Linked DNA regions of Homo sapiens: region 1 is linked to region 2. Evidence: fine-mapped expression QTL. A gene starts in region 2. The other region holds a variant in brackets. All regions are shown on one strand. Distances are between the middles of the regions. Region 1 overlaps DTNB (dystrobrevin beta). Region 2 holds the start of DTNB (dystrobrevin beta).

What was found. PIP is the estimated chance that this variant, and not a neighbour inherited with it, causes the effect.
Region 1: its variant is the best candidate, but not a certain one, in a credible set for the expression of DTNB in whole blood (TOPMed, PIP 0.62).

What each region holds. Positions count from the first base shown.
Region 1 is chr2:25,616,380-25,621,753 of GRCh38, forward strand. The region is part of intron 4 of DTNB (dystrobrevin beta); the gene reads right to left. Among named protein-coding and RNA genes, the nearest start is that of DTNB, 55 kb to the right of the region's middle. The variant G/C (reference allele first, on the strand shown) is at 3,360.
Region 2 is chr2:25,670,378-25,675,751 of GRCh38, forward strand. DTNB (dystrobrevin beta) reads right to left here and starts at 3,200. Exons shown (of 21, transcript NM_021907.5): 1 at 3,009-3,200. RefSeq lists silencers at 2,649-3,578, 2,943-3,237.

The sequences.
Region 1 (5,374 bases), 54 kb before region 2:
TAATATTTTACAACACTTTGCATCCTTATTCAAAATATCCTTTGACTCAACCCTGTTGTAAATATTAGTCCTAGATTCAGAGACTCTCATATTCAAATACAGAATAACAGATATAATTCTCAATTAACCTGGATCAGCACTAAAACACTTGTATTTTTCCATTCATTAAGATTATTATTAGTCTCAATGGCTGGTCTCCGATGAAAGAATCTGTTAATTTACAGAATAATCTAGATCAGGCTATTTATAGTAAAAAAAAAAAAAAAGACTTGGCCGGGCGCAGTGGCTCATGCCTCTAATCCCAGCACTTTGGGAGGCCAAAGCTGGTGGATCACGAGGTCAAGAGATCGAGACCATCCTGGCTAACACGGTGAAACCCCATCTCTACTAAAAATACAAAAAATTAGCCGGGCGTGGTGGCAGGGGCCTGTAGTCCCAGCTACTCAGGAGGCTGAGGCAGGAGAATGGCGTGAACCCAGGAGGCGGAGCTTGCAGTGAGCCGAGATCGCGCCACTGCACTCCAGCCTGGGCGACAGAGCAAGACCCCGTCTCAAAAAAAAAAAAAAAAAAAAAGGAAAAAAAAGACTCATTAACCCCTCAATTAAGTATTGCCAGTAATGTGTGGTCCCTTAACATACCATCTCTGAGATCCACTGTTTAACCATTTTTCTTATTCACAACAGCCACGTAGAAATCTCCACACATAATCTCCCACCCAACAAACTACGAATCTTCTCTTCCCTCCACCTGTATGCACTTTCAGGTGAACAAATGTATGCGTGCTTAACATCACAGGCTTTATTAAGGGTCAGGGGATATGCACCAAAGTGTCAATCTGTAACTCAACAGGATAAACAGACTGTATAAGCACAGTGGAAGGAGTTTTAAGTTCAGGTAAAAGTAGAGGAATCTGAGATTAAGGATCATAGTAAATGTGAGCGGGATGAATTTACAGACAGGAGAGATTTGGCGAAAATACTTAGTGAACCTTTATGTTTAAGAATACATTCATAAGTTAAGTATGCATCCTGAGAATGGGGCAGTGGGCTCGAGGTGTTAATTATTAACCCTTCTTCCCCATTCAAATCACTTTTCATTTACCACTTTAGGTTCACAGTTAGTGCTATCAAAAGGTTTATACACTCTTCAAAAGGAAATATTAATATAAACAAAAATATACACAAAAGTTATAATTGTATATTTAAATACAGTTATAGAAACTTATTAAAGAAGCCAGGCGTCGTGGTTCACGCCTGCAATCCCAGCACTTTGGGAGGCTAATGCAGGTGGATCACTTGAGACCAAGAGTTTGAGACCAGCCTCAAACTGTATTAATAAAAATACAAAAATTAGCCAGGTGTGGTGATACGCGCCTGTAGTTCCAGCTACATGGGAGGCTGAGGTAGGAGAATCGCTTGAACCCATGAGGTGGAGGTTGCAGTGAGCCAAGATCACGCCACTGCTCTTTGGCATGGGCAACAGAGCAAGACCCTGTCTCAATAAAAAATTTAAAAAGAAACTTATTAAAGATACCTACTTTAAAATTCCAGTATAACTTGGCATAAAGAAATAGTTATCCGATAAAATTAATGAAGGGGTAGTCTCAACATCCTTACTTCCACAAATCACGTTACTTATATTTTTCCCTTCAAAAAGAAAAAAAACTTAGCTCTTTTCTCTCAATTGTTTGCTTTGCAGGCCAAACATCAGCAGTGACTCCTCTGCACAGAATGCTTTTCTTGGCACTGAAACCCCTCAGTCTACTTTAAGCCTAACTTCCTACAACTGCCTCTAAACAAGGCCAAGAGGAAGCATTACTTTTGCTTTTCTAATGTTTCTTTAGAGCCCCAGCATTCTTCCTCTACAACTAGAGGCAAGCAGAGAGAAAACTGCAGCTCCTCAGCACCCTGATACCGCCCGACTTTGTTCTTTATCTAACTGATTCCTTCTTCTTGGAAGAACTCATTCTTGATCCTTCCCACGAGACATCTGAAATTATTCTGTATACACTGGTCAAGTTGAAACTGAATAATTAGCTGCCAGTGGCCACAGCACATGTCCTCACCAATGTCCATGTTTTCACTACTTCCAATGTAAAGTCCAAGTTTATACCAGAATCAATTCTCTTCAAACAAGATTTGGAAATGATATTTAACCTGGTTTCATCACAAATAATGTTACTCACTTCAAATCTGGCCTATGATAGCTACAGAGTTGATTGGTAGGTCAACATTTGAAATATAACGCCATTAACAGTGAATACGAACCCCTCTATCAAGACACTAAGATGAAAAGATAAACAGGTAATATTTGTTGAGATGATAAGACAGAAGAAACTTGTGATTTTAACCCCACTCAAATAGAAGCCCTCCAGGGAATGTCCTCCTTCAGTAAGGGACATGATGATCCCTTTCTCAGCCTTCTCTGCATGATTCATTTCCATAGCCCTATCATTTTACAGTCTGACAATAAACTATGCATATGACTTCTAAAAAGAGTTATTATCCAACACTGAGAAAACACCATTATTAGCTCTGTGCCAAGCTAAGCAGACAATGAGTCACCCTGAATAAACGCTGTTATGTTTTAACATGCAGGTACCTTCTGAAGCCTCTGAAGTCCCCACCTGTTCCCTGTGGATGGGAAATCATTCGTTTCAGTTCAATAAGGTCTCAAATTCTGTCTTTCAATATTTAAAACTAACCAAATCTGGATGACGTTTCTAGCTTTACACTATCTAGTAGGAGTTTGCTATTCAAATTAATACTTTTGAAAACAAGACTACGGGTAGTATTTTGTACTTAACACAAGCTGTTTCTATCTCTTTAGCAAATGATTGTGGATGCTGCCAACCACAAATTTCTCACACGGAAACAAACTTCAACTTCAGAAACACTATTACCAGTCCGATTATCATATGTAGCTAAACGTAATAAGAGCATCTCTCTTTGATTTTCAAAAACTCGCATTCTGCCAATTAATCTTAATTTACAAAACTTCACAGTGAATGGATGTTGCAATAATCAACTGCAAATCAAGAATCCATTTGGCAAATGTCAAACAGCTTTAATCAAGTAAAATCAACTTAGAATATTATTCAATTTTATCACAATCAGAATGCCTGCTGCTTTTCATTTCAATCTTATAAACATTTATAAATAATCTAGCATTATACTAATTGAGGAATGAAAGAAATATAAAGCAGAATCTCTGCTCTCACGGACATCCATTCCATTTTGAACACTTATGAAGCAGTTTACAACCTTATGTAATTAAAGGCCAAAATAATAATATAAACAAGAACTGTAAGTCATCAAAAGGATGAAAATGGGATTGGTGATAATAAGGCAGGCTACATG[G/C]TAGGTAAAAACTTGGGTTGAGGCCGGGTGCAGTGGCTCAAGCCTGTAATCCTAGCACTTTGAGAGGCCGAGGTGGGCAGATCAGGAGGTCAGGAGTTTGAGACCAGCCTGACCAACATGGTGAAACCCCATCTCTACTAAAAATACAAAAATTAGCCAGGCGTGGTGGTACACACCTGTAATCCCAGCTACTCAGGAGGCTGAGGCAGAAGAATCACTTGAACCCGGGAGGCGGAGGTTGCAGTGAGCTGAGATCGCGCCACTGCACTCCAGCCTGGGCGACAGAGTGAGACTCTGTCTCAAAAAAAATAATAAAAAAAAAATCTGGGTTGAATTCTCAGAAATAGAAAAGATTTGGACAGAACAAAAGGAGACTGGGTAATCCCAGACAGATGTGGGAGCTGAGGGGGAACAAAACGCATGGCATCTGTCTGGGGAAAATGAGCATGTCATATTGGAAAAGAAGAGCGTCTCCAGGAGCGTAATTAGAGGTTGGTGTGGGCAGGGAGGTAAGCAGTGTTATCATTAAACCAACGGAGGAGTGTGAGCTTAATTCAAAACCACAGGGATTCTCTGAAGGTTTCTGAAGTGGGAAGTTACATGATGAAACAGTGTCTTGATCAGATTAATTTCGAAGTGAGGTACTGAATGGACAGGAGAAGTCTCTCTGGACTTGTTACTACTTCTCTCTGTTTCAGAAGAAAACAAAGGCAAGGAAAAAGAAACACACTCAGAATAAAGCATTCCTCCTGCCCTTTCTTTTAAAAAAATAAATGAAAAGCACAAAAGAATAAACAAAAAAAATTTTCTGAAAGATTAGTTAATGGTAAAACCCTTTGCAAGTCTGCATATTCTGAATTCAGAAGATTCTTATTTGTAAATTAGCACAAACTCATGACTTCTGTTGGAAGAAAAGCTACAAGATAAAGAGTAAGTAAGTGATGGATGGCCAGGTGTGGTGGCTCATGCTTGTAAGCCAAGACTCTGGAAGGCCGAGGCTGGAGAATCCCTTGAAGCCAAGAGTTCAAGACCACTCTGGGCAACAAAGCAAAACCCTGTCTCTACAAAAAATAAAAAATAAAATAAATAGCCTGTTCACACTGAGAAACAGCTCTGAAATTTTAAAAAGCAAAAGAAAATAGCCAGGCATGATGGCACGCACCCAACAGTCCCAGCCACTCCGGAGGCTGAAGCAGGAGAACTGCTTGAGCCCAGGAGTTCAAAGTTGCAGTGAGCTATGATCATGCCACTGCACTCCAGCCTGGGCAGCAGAGCAAGACCTTGTCTCTTAAAAAAAAGAAAATTTAAATGTGCTACAACGGTGGAAAATCTTCCCACTCAGCATAGGACTCTGATCTTACTTGGCTGGCTTTTTTCTTATGATCCTGAATCCTTCTAAAAACAAGCAGGGATGTAAATAAATACTGTACACCAACATATGAAATGTCTGTGCCTCCCAGGAAATTACAGTTTTGTTTAAAAATCACTAATGAAGAAGACTGTAACCTAATATTATCTTTTATCAGCAACATCCATTCCATAACATGCTAGGCTGGGCAGATTAAGAATTTATGGAAGACATTTGCTTTTATTTGAAATGGACTGGTTTGTTTCTGCTTTGTTTTGTATTGTTTTGTTTTAAACATTCAGTATTAAGGGGGAACAATATAACTTTTTAAATGGATTCAAATTAAACTGCTAAATCAACTTTTTTTTTTTTTTTTTGAGACGGAGTTTTGCTCTTATTGCCCAGGCTGAAGTGCAGTGGTGTGATCTCAGCTCACCGCAACTTCCGCCTCCCGGGTTCAAGCGATTCTCCTGCCTCAGCCTCCCTAGGATTACAGGCATGCACCACCACCATGCCTGGCTAATTTTTTTTTTTTTTTTTTTTTTTTTTTAGTAGAGATGGGGTTTCTCCATGTTAGTCAGGCTGGTCTTGAACTCCCGACCTCAGGTGATCCGCCTGTCTCAGCCTCCCAAAGTGCTGGGATTACAGGCATGAGCCACTGCACCCA
Region 2 (5,374 bases):
TGAGTATCAGATGAGTTTGTGTTCCCTATATATACATGAAAATACATAGAGAATAGTCTGGAAAGACCACAAAAACTGATAACTTGTTTCCGTGAGTAGGTCAAGGGGGCCTTTATTCTGTCTGTACTGTTTGAGTATCTGACAAGTGAGTGTGTGTTCTGAGCCACCTGCAGAGTTGCAGCACACAGTCACACAGAGTGTGCACTACACAACTCCAGCAGCTGCCAGGCACAAGGACTCCAATGTGAATGGTGCTCCCTAAAGCTGGGCAGAATACAATCTACACAACTAGGTGCCACAGCTCTGATGCTCGTGTAATTCGAAATCAATAAAAGGGAGTAGGGAAGATAGAGAATGGACTGCAAACCAGCATAAGGGAACATTCTGGGGTGATGGAAATTTCTTGATTGGAATGGTGGTTACAAAGTATACAGCAGTCTCCCCTCAGAAATAAACAATTTGTAAGTTTTAAGTTGTGTACCATTCTGAATAGCGTGACGAAATTTTGTGCCATCCCACTCTGTCCCACCTGGGATATGAACTATCCCTTTCTCCAGCATATCCACACTGCATAAGCCACCTTCTGGTTACTCACTTAGTAGCTGTCTCAATGATCAGATTGACTGTCATGGTATCACAGTGCTTGTGTTCAAGTGACCACTGTTTTACTTAATAATAAAGTGCAAGAGTAGTGATGCTGGCAATTGGGATATGCCACAGAGAAGCCAAACATATGCCTAAGAGAAGTCATTAATCTCTCATGGCAACTAATTTATAAGTTAAAACTTTATCATAGATACTTAAGTATAGGGAAAAAACAGTCTATATAGGGTTTGGAATTAACTGTGGCTTCAGGCATCCACTGGTGCTCTTGGAACATATCCCTGAGGCTAATGGGGGGACTACTGTACACATTTTTCCAAAACTCATCCAACCGCACACGGGAAATCTGTGCATTTTATTTTGTCAACTATACGTCAAAAAGTTGGTTTTAAAATAAATACATAAACAAAATATCATTGAGAGAGCCTGGAATAAGGCACCCAATATTGTAGAACCTAGGCACCTCTCAACAAGAGACCTGCTGGCTGTACAGCCCTGAAACAGGAGAAATAAATTTACTTCTTCAAGGCTTCCTATACAATGCCAGATTTTGATTATTACTTATTTTTCACACGAAGAAACTAAGGCCCTGAGAGAGTAACATAAAGACATAAAATAAACAATAAGTTGAAATTCTCTTGGTTCTGAGTCTAATTTTCTAACCATAGGTAGAAATTTGTCTCTCGGGCATAGTGGACATCCAAAAACTCTGCCAGCACTACCTTGACTGCACAACCCCTTTCAAAGGCAATTCCACTTATGCATGATAAAAATCCTTAGAGAACTCATAAAAGGTCAAGTTTTAATTTGGCAGACAAAGTAACCCAACAGGCACTGCAACCCAGGTTACTGAAACAGCAGCCTGGAGCTCCAGAGTTCAGAGATTCAACCAAGGCAGAGCACAGGTAGAATTCCAGCCCTTACAGAAAAGCAGAGGCACCAACAGCCTCGCACTACAGGTCTAAGACCCAAGAACCAGGACCAAAATGAAAAAGTGTTCTCTAGACAACACTACCCTCTTCCTTCTCAAGTAATAGAAAAAGCCAATGGGAGAAGGAACAAAATGGGATGATCTCAAGCAACAGGCCAAGGAGCAAGCTCTTGAAGGCCAACATGAAAGACACATGGGAAAGTGGTAGCATGGCCACAGAAACCAAGACCTCGCCGCCTTAGCCATTGCTTTAACGTGCCCAGACCTCAGAACCGGGGTTGCCTCGCATAGCAAAAAAAAAAAAAAAAAAAAAAAAAAAAAAAGAGGCAGAGAGAGAGAACTTGTGGAACAGGAGAAATCCAGCAACCTTCCCTAACACTAGAGTGACTGACACTGCTCCATGGCAAATGTGGCCAAACCTTGCTTGTCCATTCATTCATGCAATAGACACTTATGGCTCAACCGCTGTGAGCCAGGCAACATTCTGAAGATTTAGCAGTCAATAGTCATGGAGCTTATTTCTAGATGGGAAGGAAGGAAACTTCCTTTCTTTCCAAACGTCTTTTTTCCCCATCTAAGAGCCCCCTTTAAATGTTACCCGTAGGAGCCTTCAAAACTCTCCCAAATTTCTCCCATAGGCTTCTTTTGACCTTTCTGCTTTATCCCCAAAACCACGCAATTTATGGCTCCAATTTCCCAATACTGGGAAAAGACAAAAGAGACCGAAAGTAAATAGGGCATGCGACATAAAATTCGACGCTCCTTTGTATTTCATGTGCATATCTTCACAGCCACACTGTCAGCACCTCAATAACATGACGGTGTTCCATACTATTTCGTGGCCCCAGTGCTGACTACGGGTCTCTACCTACGGTAGCTGGAAGGTCTTCCTAATCCCAAGGCCTGGCACAGGAATTTAAGGGCAAGTATTCGTCACCGGCATCCTCGTCTCGGGACACTTCTTTCCTGTCCAGGGTGACCTCCTGGACAGGTTCGCTATTAGGCGCCTCGGGAAACAGTGATTTGGGGTGATCTGAAATAAATACCCTTCCCTCTGCCAGGGCCTGCCCGCCTCACCTGCCCTCTGCCAGGACCTGCCTCACTCGCCCCTTCAGCACCTAACGCAGAGCCGCCTCCAGGCGAGCCGGGCTCGGGCAGCATCAGCCCGGCGCCGGGCCCCCGCTCGCGCCCGTGCCCCGGCGCGTTCCGGACCCCGATACCCCTCCCGGCCCGGGATCCGCCGCATCCCCTCTGCCTGTCCCTCCGGGGCTAGCCGCGCCGTCCCACCTCGCAGCCGCGCGCGGTGCAGCGGCCCCGGCTCCCCGCGCCCTCCCCGACTCCTGCAGCGCCGCACCCGCAGGCTCCCGGGTCCCCAGTCCCGGCGCAGCGCGAGCTGCCGTCCCGCACCTCGCGGGCGCGAGGCTCCAGCCCAGCTCGTCTCCCCACAGCCCCGGCGGCGGCCGCAGACCCCCACCTTGCTCACTTCCCCGCCGGAGCAGGGGTCGTCGGGAAGGTCTCCTGCGGCCTCACTCCTCCGCACGCTCCGGCCCAGCCCCCTCGGCTGAGGCAGCGGCAGCGCCTACTCAGGCCCCGGAGCCACCCCCGCGGCGAACGTTCGCAGCGCCCGGCTCGCGCCGCTTCTCCGCCCGGCACGCGCAGCGCCCGCCCCCGGCGCGAGGGCGCGAGGGCGGAGGGCGGAGGGCGGATGGGCGGGCGCGCGCCCAGCGCGAGCGCGCGGCCGGGGGCGTGGCTTCCGCGCGCGGGGAGGGGGCGGGAGCGGCCGAGCAACCCCCCTCCACCCCGCCCCCGCGGCCGCGCCCCGCCCACCGGTCGCCGGCGGGTTCCGGGCAGGCGGGAAGCTGGCTCCATCCAGGCTTCTCCCGCTCGCTGGCGTCGGGCCGGGTGTCTTTCCATCCGCAGGTATCCGTCGGCGGGGTGCCCGGCCCGACGTGACTACCCGACAAAGAATGCAAAGAGCCACCCCGTGAATCATTCTCCGCGCCTGGGTCACAAGCCTGTGCCCGAGTGACCCCCGTGAACTCCGCAAGCTAGCCCAGCCGCGGCGTGCGCCCCGCGCTGCACCAGGTGCCTGTGGGCGCACGATCACGGTCACGGCGCCTGGGCTCGAGGCGCCCCAAACTTAGCGGGGAAAACAGCCATGTACACAACCAAGTCCGATGACCCGTGCAGAGCCAAGCCACGGTGCGATGCTGGCACAGAAGCTAGAGACGACTTCTGCTTGGACGCCGCAGAGGGCTAGAGGCGGCATTTATGGTCAACCTCGAAGGAAGAAAAAGAAGTCCTAGGAGGAAAAAGGGAGGACATTAGGGCTGGGAAAACAGTTTGGGCAAAGGAGCCGGGGCAGCCAGGTTTACCATCTCAGCACCAGCTTTTTTGTGTTTTACTGTTATCCATCTTTTATAGAATTCTTTCCAAACTGTGAAATACAGGAGATGGTGCCAAATTAGAATATAGCAAGGACTTTTTGAATGGTTCAAATGGTCATTCTCAACGTTACTTAAGACTCAAAACAGCAACGTCCTTTGGGGGCTATTGGTCAATGATGAAGGCTGTAAGCTCCAGAGCTAAGCGACCCCAGGCCTGCATGCTGGGAGTATGGTTTTCACTGCTTTTTGGCACCTTACGGTAAGGCAGATCGTGCCACCTCCTGCTGCTGCCTGCCTGCCTGCCTGCCTGCCTTTAGAACACCCTCTTCCTCCTCCTCTCCTCTTTTTATTTTTAAACTCCTATGGTGAAGGAAATGCTGATAACCAACTTTGTTAAATGGGAACAAATAGGTTCCTCAAAAGATGAGCATTTTCTGGCCTGCCGCGGAGGCTCACGCCTGTAATCCCAGCACTTTGGGAGGCTGAGGCAGACGGATCACTTGAGGTCAGGGGTTCGAGACCAGCCTGGCCAACATGGCGAAACTCTGTCTCTACTAAAAATACAAAAATTAGCCGGGCGTGGTGGTGTACGCCGTAATCCCAGCTACTTGGGAGGCTGAGGCAGGAGAATCGCCTGAACCTAGGAGGCAGAGGTTGCAGTGAGTCGAGATCGCACCACTGTACTCCAAGTCTGGGCAAGAGAGTGAGACTCCGTCTCAAAATAAATAAATAAAGATGGACATTTTACCTTTTACCTTACATATATGAAGTGTGTGAATATTTTCATGCTTGAGGAGACTTATCTCTTGTAGGCACGGTCTTGGCTATGTTTTGTACATATTAAGATACTCAGAATACAGGTAAGAGACCTCTAGCTTCTTTATTTGCCCTTTTTGAGCACCCCCTATGTGGAAGGCATTGAGAGGGGTAAAACATTGATTCTGTTCTTTGGAGAAAAGATGTGTAAATAATATAAAATAAATGTGTAAATATCGCTTGATATGTTCGGTTTATTGATTGAAACCAAGGTAATTTCAATATGTGGACTAGACAATCCTAAACCATAAGGGAATTAAATACTTCAAGGACACTGTATTGGCATCTCTCCATCTCTGTTCTCTATTTCTTCACCTCCCACATCCTCAGAAAACTTTTCAAACACCTTTCAATCATTCTCCCCCTCTCACTCCAAAATTACCAACTTCTCTTTACTTGTCTCTTTCCTTCATCATCTATTCATGTTTAAGCTTTTCCTGTCCTCAAGAAAAAGGAAGAAACCCTTTCGCTGTCCCTCTAGATTCTGCTTCAGTTACTAGTCCCTCTCTGAGTTTTCCTTCATAAATATCTTGAAAGTCATCTACCCTCATCTCTACCTCCTCAGCAGCTCCTCAGCTCCTCAAACCTATGTAGTTTCTGTCCACACCACATCACTGCATTGCTCTCAGTCATGAAT